Linked DNA regions of Homo sapiens: region 1 is linked to region 2. Evidence: fine-mapped expression QTL. Tissue or cell type: thyroid. Region 2 holds a variant in brackets; the other region holds the start of a gene. All regions are shown on one strand. Distances are between the middles of the regions.

Evidence for each region. PIP is the estimated chance that this variant, and not a neighbour inherited with it, causes the effect.
Region 1: CEP63 starts here. The variant in region 2 is fine-mapped to the expression of CEP63 in thyroid (GTEx, PIP 0.99).

What each region holds. Positions count from the first base shown.
Region 1 is chr3:134,482,276-134,490,380 of GRCh38, forward strand. CEP63 (centrosomal protein 63) reads left to right here and starts at 3,782. Exons shown (of 15, transcript NM_001353108.3): 1 at 3,782-3,927. ANAPC13 (anaphase promoting complex subunit 13) reads right to left here and starts at 3,710. Exons shown (of 3, transcript NM_015391.4): 1 at 3,677-3,710; 2 at 531-656. The coding sequence starts at 629. RefSeq lists enhancers at 3,365-3,484, 3,515-3,614, 3,695-3,804, 3,896-4,714.
Region 2 is chr3:134,533,526-134,541,630 of GRCh38, forward strand. CEP63 (centrosomal protein 63) reads left to right here. Exons shown (of 15, transcript NM_001353108.3): 6 at 3,630-3,743. Among named protein-coding and RNA genes, the nearest start is that of CEP63, 52 kb to the left of the region's middle. The variant A/G (reference allele first, on the strand shown) is at 3,792.

The DNA.
Region 1 (8,105 bases), 51 kb before region 2:
CTGCAGCAGAGTTTTCCAAAGATGGGGAAGAAAAGAGTATTCCAGAAGGCCACTGGCCTAAACGCAAAAGAATACCCAGGTATCTTCTGAATATTTTCCAGGGAACCTAAGATAGGTGTATGCTCCAAGAATGTAAGTTTCTAAAAATGCTGAAAGACTGATGAGCCACAGGCAGGGAAGTAAGAAACAGAGCTCATATGCTGCTGCTTCTTGTTCTTCCCCATCTTGCGCATTAAACTCTCATTATTTGGTTTCTCTGGTTTTCGTGTGGTGGACAGAACATGGCTCAGAAAATCGGGGCTCTAGTCCTGGCATGACTCCTAACTGACCTGGCCATGTTAGCTCCCTGAACCACATTTTTCTTCAAATAAAACATACAACTGGATGCTCTCCAGAAGCTTCTAGAGTTAGAGAATTCCACAGCTTTGATTTCTTTGCCACACTAGTTTATCTTCCATTGATATCCCTCCTCCACTAGTTACTGCCAGATCAATACCTTTAACCCATCCTCAGCTCAAATCATAACCTACCAGTGGTATTGCGACATCCTCATAAGGCAGCTTGTCTTCTCGCCAAGCATCATCAATCAAATCCAAGATCCTTCCATCTCTCTGAACCTCACTGTCCATTTTCCTGCAGCTTTGATCTTGTCAAATCTGTAAGCCAAAGAGGTTATTTCTTAAACACGAAGACTGAAGAGATGGTATAATCCACTATTAGGATTCTCCAGGCTTTTTAGTCTGGGGCCACCTTTTGGGAAAAGGTTCATTTTCTCATATGGGCCGGGTGACTACTTTGATCACAGTTCCTCTCTCCAACCCCAACTGATACATATTTTATAGTGTATACTGGACAGGCATAGCCCAGCTGACAGACCAGTGTCATAGAGTGTGACAGGAGAGCAACACGTTAAACGAGGCCCTCAAATATTAATATGTTGCATCTCAATGTAGCTCTTCTCTTCTAACTTGAACATTCACCTTTTCCTGTTTGTGATGCCTTTGATGAGTCCCTGATTCATAATGGCCAGCTAAGTTTCCTTTCTAGCCCCTGGCTCAAACCTCAGCATTCTTAGGCACAGGAGTCACACGAACATACTGTAAAGGAAACGGCTTCCTTCCCTAAAATAGTACCCAGGCTGAGATCTGAATAAAGCACTTCTAGGTGAACACCAGTGGTAGAACCTCATACTGCTAAAGTTTCTCCAGTTTCTGCTTCCCTTTGGGGTAGCTCCTTCCTCGGAGGTTCCTTCCTCTAATTCTTAACGCTACACTCCCTTCAATTTCTGGCCCAAATGGTCACGATGCTTATTTAGCTCCTTGACCATGGCTGATTCCCCATTTTTCTCTGAAACTGCTATAATCTAATCCAAAAGGCTGGCTAGCTTGTAGGATACTTCTGGATTTCCCTGTTTCCAAGGTTGGGCCCTGACTCATCATAGGCATCATCCTATGGGTGCTCCCTGCTACCAAGTGACAATCCAAAAAGCCCGGAAGCCACTGGCATCAAAGGTACTCTCAGTTTCTGAGACTATGGAGACTCACACAATAAGCAATTTTGGGGTGGTGGAGCGGGGTGGAACCCACCATCTGGAGGTGCTTTTTTCAGAGCTCAGCCTGGGTGATATTTTAAGGAAGGAAGCCATTTCCTTTACAAGCTCAACTTCAGACATCGTCTTGCCTTGAGGATTTGTGTCAGGTCTGTAGTTGGTCCCTTCGCATAGTCCAGTTTAGTGTTATCTCAGTATGTTCATGAGCTCCTGTGCCTAAGAACGCTGAGGTTTGGGCCAAGGCAGGTGGAAGTTTTTGTAAAAATGGCTCACAGGGCCGGGCGCGGTGGCTCGCGCCTGTAATCCAGCACTTTGGGAGACCGAGGTGGGCGGATCACGAGGTCAGGAGATCAACACCATCCTGGCTAACAGGGTGAAACCTCGTCTCTACTAAAAATACAAAAAATTAGCCGAGCATGGTGGCAGGCGCCTGTAGTCCCAGCTACTCGGGAGGCTGAGGCAGGAGAATGGCGTGAACCTGGGAGGCGGAGCTTGCAGTGAGCCGAGATAGCGCCACGCGCCACTGCACTCCAGCCTGGGCGACAGAGCAAGATTCCGTCTCGGAAAAAAAAAAACAAAAAAAACCAAAAAGGCTCACAGCTGTCCCCCATAGGATAACTGCAAGATATCCCTAACACCTTGGCAAAAATTATACACAGATTGGTGTGGGAAAGGGTTTACACCCCCATGACAAGGATCTCGGCAAAAGTTAAGCAAAATGCGCCCTGCTACTTCTGTCACCGGTGAGCCAGGTGAGGGCTTAATTAATCCAGTACTCAATAATTAACCGAGTACTACCCAGTGGATAACTCAAAGCAAGACGAAGTTTTGGTTATACTTTTGAAGTCCCTGTCTTACAAGTGCTCCCCACTTTCCTGCTGCTACTCCTTTGTCCTTGCTGCTCTGTCTCCTGGGATACCCTTCTCACTTTCCTCAGCTGATCCAAACCTGACTTTCGGAGGCCCACGTAGATTTTCCACCTTTGTAAAGTTTTCTCAAATCACTCGAGCTTCAGTAGGCCTTCTATCCTTGAACTCTTGCTTCTTGTCCTAACTTAATCTACTAAACAAGCTAGGTCAGCTTTGTGGTCAATTGCTCAGGTATTATTGCCTCCAACTGTTACGTGTACATTTTGTACCCATGATTCCTTAGTAGATCTTTCCACATTTGGTCTCAATCTTTTTCACCTGTCCCTTCTCCAAACACCTCCAACCCTGTCACATTTTCCAGCCTTGACAGTTAAAACCCCCTTTTCCACATCACTAATGCCACTCTTCCTTTCAAGATAAACGCAGGCGTCAGCTCTTGAAGGTCAACATCCCATTTCCGGGATTAGGCGCGAAGGTGCCTTCCCTCATAAGGGGCTGGAAGGATGGGAAGCATCAAGATAATCAATGCCCAGGGCACACTGATTATCTTGTGTATTAAAGCCACCGTCCCAAGTACTCGTCACCCAGTACGACCACTGTTTCCTGAACAAACTTTTCTTACTCACGTGACAGTCCCGATGCCTGCAATGCTCTTTGTTTCTTCCTTTTTATTCCAGTGAACCCACAGTCAGTCTAAAAATCTTAGGTCCCAGGTCGCTTCCTATAGGAGGCCGCCTCCAAACCCCAGGCTGAGTGCGGTCCCGGTACCCACCCCTCCAGGGGTCTCACAGTTCCCTAAGCACAGAGCATGGCACCAACTGGGGAGTCTGTCAAACAGCCCAGATGAATGTCTTTCCAAACACGCGGTGCCTGCGTTTCCAGGGACAGGGACACGTCTTATCAATTTCTATATATTACAGCTTTGTAAACATAATATTTATAAAATCAAAGCGGGAAAGCCTTGTTCCTTGCTAGAAATGAGCCTCGCAGGCCACCACCATCCGCACCGTACGACAGGCCGTCCCTCAGCTGCGGCTTCCTGCCTCAGGCAGGATGTACCAAACGTGGAAGCGGAGACGGGGAGGTCTGGGGGTGCCACGCAAGTCCCTTTCCTCCCGACACGAGTGCAGTAAAGAAAAACGGTTATGAGCGTAAAGTGACAGCCTCGGCCGATGGGAATAGGGGGAAGTCCGACACTGAGCAACGAACGCATTCCCGCGCCTCCAAAACCTAGGCCGGGGGCGCTGGAAACCCTTACCGGCACCCGGCCACCGCGGCAGACGCTTGCTCCTGCCACGCCCCCCCCCCCTCCCCCGCATCACGTGTCTGCACTCGCTTTCCTCGGATTCCCGGATGTGGGTGAGTTCATTTGCTCGCGTGCAGGGGAAGTCTGGAGAAGGCATTGTTTCAATTATTAAAAGTGTGGGGGCAGTGGGCGGAACAAACGCGCCGACTACAGAGGCTGGACGTAAGCTTAGCGGTGGCGCGCGTGCGCAGCGCCGGCCCGAGGTAACGGCGGGAAGGCTCAGGGGCGTGCTTGCGGCAACCCTGTAACCGCCGGTGCGCAAGTTGGAGGGGCAAGGGGCTGCCGTGTCCTGGTCTGGAGGCGGCCCAGGCTGCCTTGGTGATTCTGGCTTCGCGGCCTCATGGCTTGCGGCCGGTTTGCGCAACGGCCTGCGAACCACCAGGCGCGTCCCCGCCGGCTTGGGTCCGCCCCGAAGCCCAGTCCCTCGGCCTGGCCCGCTATGCCCTGCACACTGGCGGAGTCTGGCGTGGCGCAGCCCGGCGTGGGGTTCGGCCCCGCCAGGTGGTCAGCCCTTCCTCGGAGTCCAGGTGGCTGGGGGCGCTTCGGAGAGTGGCCAGGTGGGCGAGCGAGCTGCGCCCAGTACTCACCTTCCCCGGCGGACCCACCTTCCTTTTCAGCGGAGAGACCCCAGTGCGGCCTCCCTGCCAGGGCTGCTGTCTAGCTAGCGCTGTTGGGACTACTTCATTCACGGCACAAGGGGACCCGCTCATTTAGTGTGGCATGTTAAGGTTGGCAGCTTTTAAAATAGTGAGTTGGTTTAAACGGTTATGTTAGTACAAGAGGTACGGAAATGTGGCATAAATCGTGGACTGAAATTGGAGAACCCTGAACTAACGGCTCCATGCACACAAATGAGGGATAGAAAGAAATAAGGACGGTTTCTTAGGAACACTTTAATCATGGAGATACTTGAAGACAGTACATTTAGGCTTATAATGTGGTTTTTCTTACGTCCCTTACGACATCAGGAGAGTAAAGATGAGTATGATGTCAGAGACAGGTCGTCTTTTACAGTTTCAGCACCGTACGCTGATATGCACAGAGTAGTTTTCCCTGAGCCTTATGTCTGGTTAAACTTATTAAAAGAATTTATTATTTTAATAAAGCAGTATTGTAGGGTAGATGCCCTGTATTTATACAGTTCCTCAAGTGCTTGCATTTATTTTTTAGATACGAGGAAATCATAAGGATCGTTGATTAGATTTCTGTTAGCTGTAGCTTAATGATAAAGTGTATATATTTTCTTATTTGGCATGCAGTACCATTTTTAGATTGATTTTTATTTTGAGTTTGCTTTTTGACTGTGGCATTATCAGTGATCAGGGTAGTAAAAAGCTCTGAAACTAAATTAGAGTAGAGATTTATAAACAGGCACACTGCCTTTTAAAATGTATGTAGATGCAAATCTAAAAGTTGTTTGTAAAAATTGTGTATGTTGATTGTACTGATGCCATTTCCTCTCGTTAAAATGGTGGAAGACCTTTGCTTAGTCCTTTCTGTTCTAATTTATGTTGTGCTGGCAGATGGTGACAGCATCAGTAGTCCACTCTGTCATTGCTTCCTGCTTTCAAAAAATGTCAACTTGACTTGAAATTCAGCTAAAGCCAACATTGACAGAAGGTTTCAGGAACTGAATCTCCGATCTTTATGTTATTTTAGTCCGCCTCCCCGCCCCCATCAGGAGCTAGGTTTTTCAGTTTTACAGAGCCACAGTACTGTCATTACACATACACAAATTAATAAAAATTCTCTAATGTCAATATCCAGTCAGATAACGATTTCTTCAACTGTCTCTTAAATGTCTTTTTACAATTAGCTTGTTTGAACCAAAATCCCACAGGGATCTGCCTATTGTGTTTGGGTGATGCACATTTGACATCTTTTAATCTATATTTGTTCCCTCATAGTTATAGCTATGGGATTAGCCCCTATTTTTCCTTACAGTTCTAAATTTAGCAGATTGCATCGCACAGTATCCTTTAACATGTATCTCTGTTGCCTTTGTGTCCTCTAAACCAGGGGCCCCCAAACCCGGGGCCGCAGAGCAGTACCAGTCCGTGGCCTGTTAGGAACCAGGCTACAGAGCAGGAGGTGAGTGACAGGCTAGTGAGCATTACCTACCACCTGAGCTCTGCCTCCTGTCAGATCAGCCGTGAGGTTAGATTCTCCTAGGGGCACGAACCCTATTGTAAACTGCGCATGCAAGGAATCTAGGTTGCACACTTATAAGAATCTGACTAATGCCTGATGATCTGAGGTGGAATAGTTTCATCCTGAAACCATGCCCCTAACCCTGTCCATGTGTATTATTCATATTACTGAAGAAGTGGTTGGCCGGGCGCGGTGACTCACGCCTGTAATCCCAGCACTTTGGGAGGCCGAGGTGGGCATGAGGTCAGGAGTTTGAGACCAGTGTGGCCAACATAGTGAAACCCCGTCTCTACTGAAAATGCAATAAAATTAGCCGAGTGTGGTGGTGTGCGCCTGTAATCCCAGCTACTCGGGAGGCTGAGGCAGGAGAATCACGTGAATCCGGGAGGCGGAGGTTGCAGTGAGCCGAGATCACACCATTGCTCTCCAGACCAGGCAAGAGTGCAAGACTCGGTCTCAAAAAACAAAAAAAAGTGGTTTGGCCATTCCTCCCCCAAAACATTTCATATGAATTTTAACAAAAAGATATTTACAAAATGTGTTATTTCCGCCCTGTCGGTGTTGAGAAATTGTCTTCCATGAAACAGGTCCCTGGTGCCAAAAAGGTTGGGGACCACTGCTCTAAACCAGTAGTTAGATGTAGAATTGCACTGTCCGGTATTGTAGCCACCAGCCAGCAGTGGCTAGTTAATTAAAGTGAAATAAAATTAAAAATTCAGTTCCTAGGCTGGGCGCGGTGGCTCACGCCTGTAATCCCAGCACTTTGGGAGGCTGAGGTGGGTGGATCACGAGGTCAGGAGTTCGAGACCAGCCTGACCAACATGGTGAAACCCCGTCTCTACTAAAAATGAAAAATTAGCCGGGCGTGGTGGCATGCGCCTGTAATCTCAGCTACTAAGGAAGCTGAGGCAGGAGAAGGAGAATCGCTTGAACCCGGGAGGTGGAGGTTGCAGTGAGCCGAGATCACGCCACTGCACTCCAGCCTGGGTGACGGAGCGAGACTGTCTCAAAAAAAAAAAAAAAAAAAAAATTCAGTTCCTAACTTGCATTAGCCACATTTCAAGTGCTCGGTAGCTACAGATTGCCTGGTGGCTGCTTTTTGAACAGTGCAGTTATAAAATATTTTCATAATTGCAGAAAGTTGTATTGAACAGCACTGCTCTAGAAGCCTGATGAGATTTCACCCTTATATTTGTTTTTGTTTTGTTTTTTGGTGGGATAGTTGGGGGGGTTGGACAGATAATTTCATAGGTAATGCAGTATACTTCCTATTTCATTAATTATCAGGGAAGCAGTGTCTGAGTTGTTTTCTTTTTTTATGATGTTAACATTAAACATTATATTGGGTTTAGGTGTAGTTAGCTCCATCCACCCATAGTGAAATTCCCCAAGACTCTTTCACTTAGTGGTGAAGTCCTTTTGTGGGGTTATATTGCCTGTATCCGTTATTGCATTAGAGGTTGCAACGTGGTGATTATCTAATTCTATTATTTCTTCAATATTTATCAACTGAGAGTCTTTTATGAAGAACTTTCCCTTTCCAGCTGTTTGACTACCCTGAAATACAATTTGTACAGGAAAGGCAAGAAAAATGCTTAATTCTTTGCCTCTATTTTCAGACCACAGTAATGAGTTGGTGGCCTAGCAGCCTCCAAAGGTAACCATGAGGGTTTTTGCCTTTTTGTAAACCTATAATCATGAACTTATAGACTTTATATTTAAACTGTTTCAACATATGGCAGTTGTGTTTTTAATACTCAAATTGTTTCATCTTTGGCCAGTGGGAGCTCCTTAAAGTTGGCTCCTATTCCATTTGATATGACCAATAGCTTTGGTAATTTCCTTGCTTTCTGGTAAATAATTTTCCTGGCTCATTTATAGATTTCTGGTCTTCAAGGAGCCGTGGTTCTTTTGAGTCTGAGATAGTATTTGGAGACCACAGTCTTACCTAGGTGGGAGAGGTGTTCTTGCTACTAGGTTAGTCGTTAGTTCTAGGATTTATGGTGGCCAGAGTTAGGAAATATTATATATTAAAAAAAACACAAATATGCAAAATTCGCATTGTTTCCAACATTTAACATTTAAATTTCCAAAATTTAAACTTAATTTTACAGTTTTTTCACACGTTGGATTTATGTTTGTATCTTTTTTGCTGAGTCTTGGTGCCTAGTGCCATTAATAGAATTAGTTTTTTTTCCTCATCCTATGTTATATATAATGGTTTCAAGTT
Region 2 (8,105 bases):
CATGATTATTGTATATATTGAGAACTTAAGGGGAGCTGGTGAGCTAATAGTACCAAGAGTAGATGAAGGAAGAGCACAAGGCTGTCATTCTCTTCGTCTGTCCTTGCCATTAGTTCTTCACTGGACATAAGAATTCCCAGGGTGCTTTTAGGCTCTCAGAAATGCTGATCCAGCAGTATGGCATAGGACCTAGGGATCTGCATTGTATCCAGCTCCCCTAGCTTATTCTGATTTGAGAAACATTGTTCAACATCTTTGTGTGATCACTTACAAGTTTGTACTCTGGGTGACCTGTCACCCACAAATGCCAGTATATTATTATTACTTAAAATTATAATTTCTGTGTTTAATATTCCTTTATATCTCAATATTTTTTTACATTTGAAGAGCTTAGAATCAGAAGACTGCAGCTACTGCTTCCCTTCCACCCTTTTCGGCAATACCTTTTCCCCCCAAACCCTATATCCTTCTTGCTTCTCATTGCCACTTCCTGACTATTCTCTTTTCTTTCTACCTCAAAAACCCCATCTTTGATTTTCATGTTACCAGCCTATACTGCCAGCCAATGAACATAACAACCAAAATAGTCATCGTCTGACCTCTGGGTTATTTCCTTGGCTCATTGATTTCAGCACCCAGCTCACTGTCAATTCTCTCTGACATTACTCTTATCATAACTTTGAGGATCTTAGGATCTGGAGAGATGATGCTTATAATACTCTGACCTTACAGTTTCTTGGCTTTCTTTCCTCCATAGATAGTTTGATTATCTTTGTGTCTCATCTACTTATTCCCACTGCCATTCCTTAGCTCTTGTCATTACCAATATATGCCACCCCTCTAGAATCTCATTTTCAAGCATTCAATTATCAGACTACCAATCCCTATCTTTTCAGCTAACTCTCTCTAGTCCTTTGACTCTCAGTAATCATTAACCATCCCTTAAAATGATTAAATTCTGCCACCTTTTTACTGCTCCATTATCTACTTGGTGTTCTCACTTATCGGTCCTTAGCCAGCTTTTAAATTCTGTCATTACATTTTTTACTTTCCCCTTCATCTCCTGTGCTCCTCTCTTGCTTCCTCATATTTGCTTGGCAGAATCACAGTTCTGCTTAAGTCCACCTTTCTGCCCACTCTCTACCTGTCATGTATCGCTGAACGTGGCTAGAGAAAAACCTAATCATACTGTCTGTTCTCACTTTAAATTCATGGTCACTAACCTCAAATGGGTCCTAATGCTACCTGGAATCATACTGTATTTCCTCTCATCTCCTACTTTCCACAATGAGTATTTCAGACTTCTGCTTTTCTCCTCAAACTCTCAACACCTTTCCCCACATCCTCACCTTTGGGTTATATCTTCCTTTCTGTTTATAGACTTCCAACTCTTGTGTCCACCCACCTATCTGCATCTGTGCCCATGTACCCTGCCTTCCTTCCTGGAGGAACTACGCATGCCCTCCCCCTTTTCTACCCAAGGCATTACCTTAGCAGTTCACCTTCTCTTTTCTGCACCCTTAATTTTTTTTCTCTACTGGATATTTTTTACCAGCATCCAAATTTCCCTCCTCTTAAATATCCTCTCTTGACCCGTCTCTTCCTCCTCTGCCCCATTTTATTTCTTCCATTTTATAACTAAAAAATTACTTCAGTCATCTATACTTGTCTCCAGTTCCTCTTGTCTCATTGTTCTTGTACCCACTCAATAAGGCTTTTGTCCCCTCACACTGCAGAAGCTGTTCACATAGAGGTCACCAGTGACTTCCACATTCCCAAAGCCTGTGGGCTGGTCCTTATCTTCCTCATCCTACCTACAGCTTTGTAGGAGAGCTGGTCTCTCCCAACTCCTTAACCACTTTCTTGACTTGGCTTGAGAAAAACCACATTTCTCTCATTTTTTCCTTGTTCATCACTCCTCAGTCTCCATTATTCCTTAACCACCTAGGGTCATGTCATTGGACCTTTCCTTTCCTTTTTTTTTTTCCTATCTACGCTCACTCCCCTATTGATCCCATTGAATTTCATAGCTTTAACACTGTGTATATGCTGACAATTCCTAAATTTATATATCTAGCCAAGACCTCGCCTCTTCATGACAGAATAACTTTCAACTGCCTGTTTCCTATCTCCACTATGATGTCTAAAATGTGTCAAACTTAACATGTCCAAGCTAAAGGTCCTGTCTTTCTCTTCCTCATCTCCCCAACACTGATTCATGTTTTAGTTGATAACAACTCAATTTGCTCAACCTAAAACCTCGGAGTCATCCTAGACTTCTCTTTTCTCAGCATGATAGCCAGAATGATTCTGCTGTAATGTAAGTCAAATTATATCACTTCCTATACAAAAACCTTCCAGCAGCTTCTCTTAAAAATCTGTTATCCTAATGGCCTACGTGGTCTCATTCCCAGTTATCTCTCTTACCTTGTCTTCTCCTACTTTCCCTTTCATTCACTTTATTCCAGCCACACCAATTTCCTTTCTCACCCTTAAACACACCAGGATGCTCTTATTTCAAGGCTATTCTTTCCACCCAGAATATTGTAACTTCACCCTCATCTCCCTAGGTGTTTACTTAAATGTTTTTCACTCAGTCTGGCCATCCCTTTTAAAAATTACAACCCCAACTGTGAAGACTTCATGCTCTGTTTTCTCCAAAACGTGTATTACCATCTGCTATACCATACAAGAAATGTGTCATCTGTTGCCCCCAGTTGAGTAGGACTAGGGTTTTTGTTTGTTTTGTTAAGTATTGTATCCCTGACTCCTAAAGCAGTACCTGGCATATATAGTAGAATGATTGAATGAATGAATGAATATCAGAAATTTGGTTAACAACACTTATCTTAAGGAGCCTGAGACTTCTGGAGTTGAGGGTCCTGGAAGACAGTGATAGAAAGATTGAGTTTCCTTTCCCTTTGATTTGCCCCATTTTCATAAATATTGAAATCACTTTCTTGATCATGCAATTTGATGTTACTATTGATCCATCATTAATTTTGAACTGTTTGGCTTTGGGTTACAAATATTTGTTAAAATTTGGTACAGATTTTCTTTGTTATTCAAACTTTTGCAGTTCCTCTGTTGAGATAATACAAATTTGGATATCAAAGGATATTGTGTTATCTGAATCTACTTGGTTCCTTAGTTTTAGATACTGGGAAGTAAGATTTGGGTTACCAAGGGACTTATCTGAAAATTTAATCTGTTCAATTCCTGGGTCTGGATATCAAGAATTTGGATAGCGAGGGATATCTGTAATCATACTTTAAAATTTTAGTTATCTTAGCATCAGTTTTCTGAAAATTCACTAGAAAATTATAACAACCCTTAGGTGGCAGCAAATCAGTGAAAAACATCTGAATCCAGTGCTTAACATCTGCGTGTCATACTCCTCACCATCAGGGTGTTAAATTTAGAAAGACAGATATCCAGAGGCACAGTATGTGAGGAAGTTAGTATTACTCTCCAGCTCTGTTAGCTGAGTGAGTAATGGGGCTCCCGCTGTGGAGAAAGGTGCAAGCGTACCCAGGGACATGGGGAGAAATTAAAGTTAAAGGGAGTCTGGGAAGTAGTGACAGTGAGGAGAAGCACTCAGAAATTAAGTACTCTAATTGCCTCCTCAGGAATTCCGTCAGAAATCGCTGGACTGGGAGAAGCAACGCTTGATTTATCAGCAACAGGTATCTTCACTGGAGGCACAAAGGAAGGCTCTGGCTGAACAATCAGAGATAATTCAGGTAGGCCTAAGACTTTTTAAAATAATGAGAAGCAGATAGGTTTTGATC[A/G]AGTTTGAACTACCTTAATGCAGTGTCCTAGTACCATTTAGCCTCTTTCAGCTTCTCTCCACGAACCCTGCTCTCTTGTTTAGGAAGCCTCTCCTCAGCATCTAGACTCAGCTCCTTCTTCCCGCCTGCCCTCACACATGCGTGCATTCACTCTCCTGTCCAGGCTCATGTCCTTGTGCCCGCTTGCTGCTTTGCCTCCTTGCTTGTTTCTGACTTGCTCACCCACTCTCTGTCATTGTCTTGCTTACTCAGGCTCACTCTATGCTTGCATCCATGTTCACTCTCCTCATCTTGGTCCCTAGCTTTGTCGCCCTCTCTTCCTCCCCTCTCTTTCTTCCCTACCACAGTCCCATTCCTCCCTCTGTCTCCTTTTCCATGTCTTTCTGTCTCTTGTTGGGTCTCTCAGCTCTACTATAGTCTGTGCCTTGCTCCATCCCTATGGTCACTGGGGTATCTTGGCCGAAGTGTCTCAGCTAGGGAGCTTCAGTTAGTCTGCCTATGCGGACAGATACGGAGAGAGTCACATGGCAATGGTGTGCACACCAACTAAAAGTGGTGTCTTTGTGGTAACAAAAACACTTATTTTAGAACATTGATAGAAACTTTTCTTGTAATGGCTTAAGCAAAACCAAAAAACAGACACCTACTTTAGGAATATGTCTTGTAAGAACATATTCAGCTCATTCCTTTTTCAGTTAGAATCAAGAACATAAAGGAAACTAAAAAAATTTGTGATCATCTGTTATGTGCTAGACATTGACCCAGTGCTTCTTGTATGTGTTCTCTGTTTAATATTATGATAATCTGTCAAGGTTGGTAGTTATCTTAGTTTTATAGAATGAGGGAACAGCCTGGGTAAGTTGAAATAGCTAGAAGGGAGGGTTTTTTTTTTTTTTTTTTTTGGCTTTTTGGGTTTTTAAAAATAATCTGCATTTATTTGCTATTTTAAGTCTCAATAATGCATTAACTTTTTGTTCGTCTCCCTGAAATATCAGCAGTCTGATAAACTACCGACAGTGGCTGTGGCTCTGCTGTGAGTGACTTCATTCAAAATGGTAGGAAAAGTCCACAACAATTGCAAGGAAGAAATTTATTTTCTAGGCCACAGCAAGCTGTGCAGCCAGACAGACCAGTGAAATCCTGAGATGTCTGGACCAGTTTTTTTGACTTGAATGCCAAAGCACCATAGAGACCTAATAAGAAATTGTGTGTGTGTGTATATATATATATATATATATGTATATATATATTTTTTTAACAACAAAAAATTTTTTTTGGTTTTCTTGAGATGAGGTCTTGCTGCATTGCTCAGGCTGATCTTGAATTCCTGGGCTCCAGCAATCCTTCCACCTTGGCCTCCTAAAGTGCTGGGATTACAGGTGTGAGCCACCACACTTGACCAAGATATTGTTATATTCTAGTTGTAGCCTTCAGATTGACAAAAAAGCAAATTGAGTCTTAATTTTTACAGTTCTCAATTATTTATCCATGGAGTATTATTGATTATAGATTCTCTCTTCAAATTACTGTTATCCTATTTCATATTACTGTTGTGATTATTGACTCTATGTAATTAAAACTTCATTATTAGTAAAAATGGGATTTTTACTTACTGTAATTCAGCTAGGGCTAGGGTAAGAAGCCTTTCAACAGCCAACATTTGTTTTTCCTACTAAGGGTGTTTGAATTAATTCTTCTGATAGTTTTGTTTAACCTAAAACTGTCTGATTGTTTAATAAAAATGTTACATATAAATGTATTTATCCTTCTCCCTTAGCAAACTAAATAAAATTAAATCTTTCAGTGATTCAGTATATACCAGTGCTGTATGATCATCATTTTTTTAAACATCTAAATAAACTTATCTATATCCATTAAGTAGCATTAATAGTTGTCATCATCTTGTCAATCTTTATTTTAATTATGGTAAAATACACATAAAATGTTCCACCTTAACCATTTTTAAATGTATAGTATAGTAATGTTAACTATATGTACACTGTTGTGCAACAGATCTCTAGAACTTTTTTATCTTGTCAAACTGAAACTCTATACCATTCCCTACTTCTTATTTTTGGGTGGAATATTACAGAGCAAATCATAGATATCATCTTATTTCCCAACAGGTAAGGACTTAAAAAATAACAATATATCAGTATCACATTAATAGAATAATAACTTCTTAATATAATTTAATATCCAGTCTGTTCACATTTCTCCAGTTGTCCAGAAAACTATCTTTTTACAATTGAATGTTTGAGTCAGAATCCAGTCAAGGTTGATGTATTGCATTTGGTTGAAAGGTGGGTCACCATTGAACAATGACAGTAGAAAACCTGGGAGGCTGAGTAAGTGGATATTAACCTACCCTCCATTAAAAAAAAATCTCTGTATAATTTTTTTCTTATATGTTTTTAACATCTAAAAGTATAATTCGGAAACAACTTCTCCTTCTTTGACATATGTTTGCTTGAATTCATTTCTTTTAATCAGCTATTAAAATTACATAATACATGCTTATTTTAGAAAAATGAGAAAATGCGGATAAAATGAGAAATAAATAAATCACCCATAATTCTACCGTTAAGAGATTTACGATGAATAAAATTTTGGTGTAAATTTCTTCTGACTTTGTGTATGCTTACATACAGTGTGCAGTACATTCATGTACTTTTGATAGGAAAAACCTATATGCACTGTGAATGGGAAAGGAGGGGTAGTTGCAAACTTTAAAAAGTCCTGAGAGTAGCAAAGTGTTGATAATTTTTGAAGCTGTGTGATAGGGGTTCATCATCTTACTCTCTCTATATTTGTGTATGCTTGAAATTTTCCATGAAACAATAACTTTAAAATATATAGAATGCTTACTAAGTGACAGGTACTATGCTAAGCACGTCACAGCTTTAAAATTTTTCCTTTTTAAATATGACATGTCAACAGATTTGTAGTCATAATGATTGTGTAGAATTCCCCCCTATCGTTAAATGTATAATGACATTTGTAACCAGTCCCTTATTGTAGAACATTTAGTTTTTTACTTTTCACTTTTGTAAATAGTGCTTAGATTAACATCCTTATATAAACATTTAGGAGTATTTATTTTCTTAGGAAATGGCCCTAGAATTGGATTTACTGTATCAGAGTACCTTCAAATATTTTAATATATATTGCCAAAGTTTTCTCCAATGATGGATTGATAGACTTTCTCTAGCAGTATGTGAGAATATCCATTTCCTCATACTTTCCCCACATTGAGCGCTATTATTTCTTTTGACTTTCCCCACTTTTAGGCTTGTCTTTGCCAATCTTATAGGTGAAAAAAAATGATACCATTGTTTTAATATACATTGTTTTAATATGAGTGAGGTTGAGGACTTTTTTCATCTGTTTATGGCCATCTTCATTTTTCATAAATTATTTGTGTCCTTTATTCACCTTTGTTTTAGGATTTTTTTTTTTTTTTTTTAAATCTTAATTTATTTTCTTTTTTGAGATGGAGCCTCGGTTGCCCAGCCTGGAGTACAGTGGCCTGATCTCGGCTGACTGCAACCTCTGCCTCCCTTCAAGCAGTTCTCCTGCCTCAGCCTCCTGAGTAGCTGGGATTACAGGTGCTCACCACCACGCTCAGCTAATTTTTGTATTTTCAGTAGAGACAGGGTTTCACCATGTTGGCCATGTTGGTCTTGAACTCCAGACCTCAAGTGATCTGCCCACCTTGGCCTCCCAAAGTGCTAGGATTACAGGCGTGAACCATCGCACCTGGCCGGATGTTTATATTTTACTATTCTGAAAGAGCTTTCCATACACTTAAGTATGAAATATAAGCCCTTTGCTATTATGTTACAGTTGCGTATGTGTACTCAATTTACCTTAATTTTTGCCCAGTATTTTTTATGGAAGTACAATTGTTTTATAAACAGTTAATTAGAATTGCTTAATTCTATCAATTTTTTGTTCAGCGTTTCTATCTTTGATATCATACTATAAAGTCTTACCTAAGTCAAATTTCTTCTAATGCTTTATCATTTCTTTTTAATACATTTTATCTAAAAATTACTTTAGTGTAAGGTATTTGATAGGAATCTAAATTTGTTTTTTAAATGGTTATATAATTTACTGACTATTACATTTTCAGGATTGGACAAAATGACTCTAAAATTCATATGGAATGATAAATGAACGATACTAGCCAACTTTTTTTTTTTTTTTTTTTTTTGAGACGGATTTTCGCTCTTGTTGCCCAGGCTGGAGTGCAGTGGCACAATCTCGGCTCGCTGCAACCTCCGCCTCCCAGATCAAACGATCCTCCTCCTC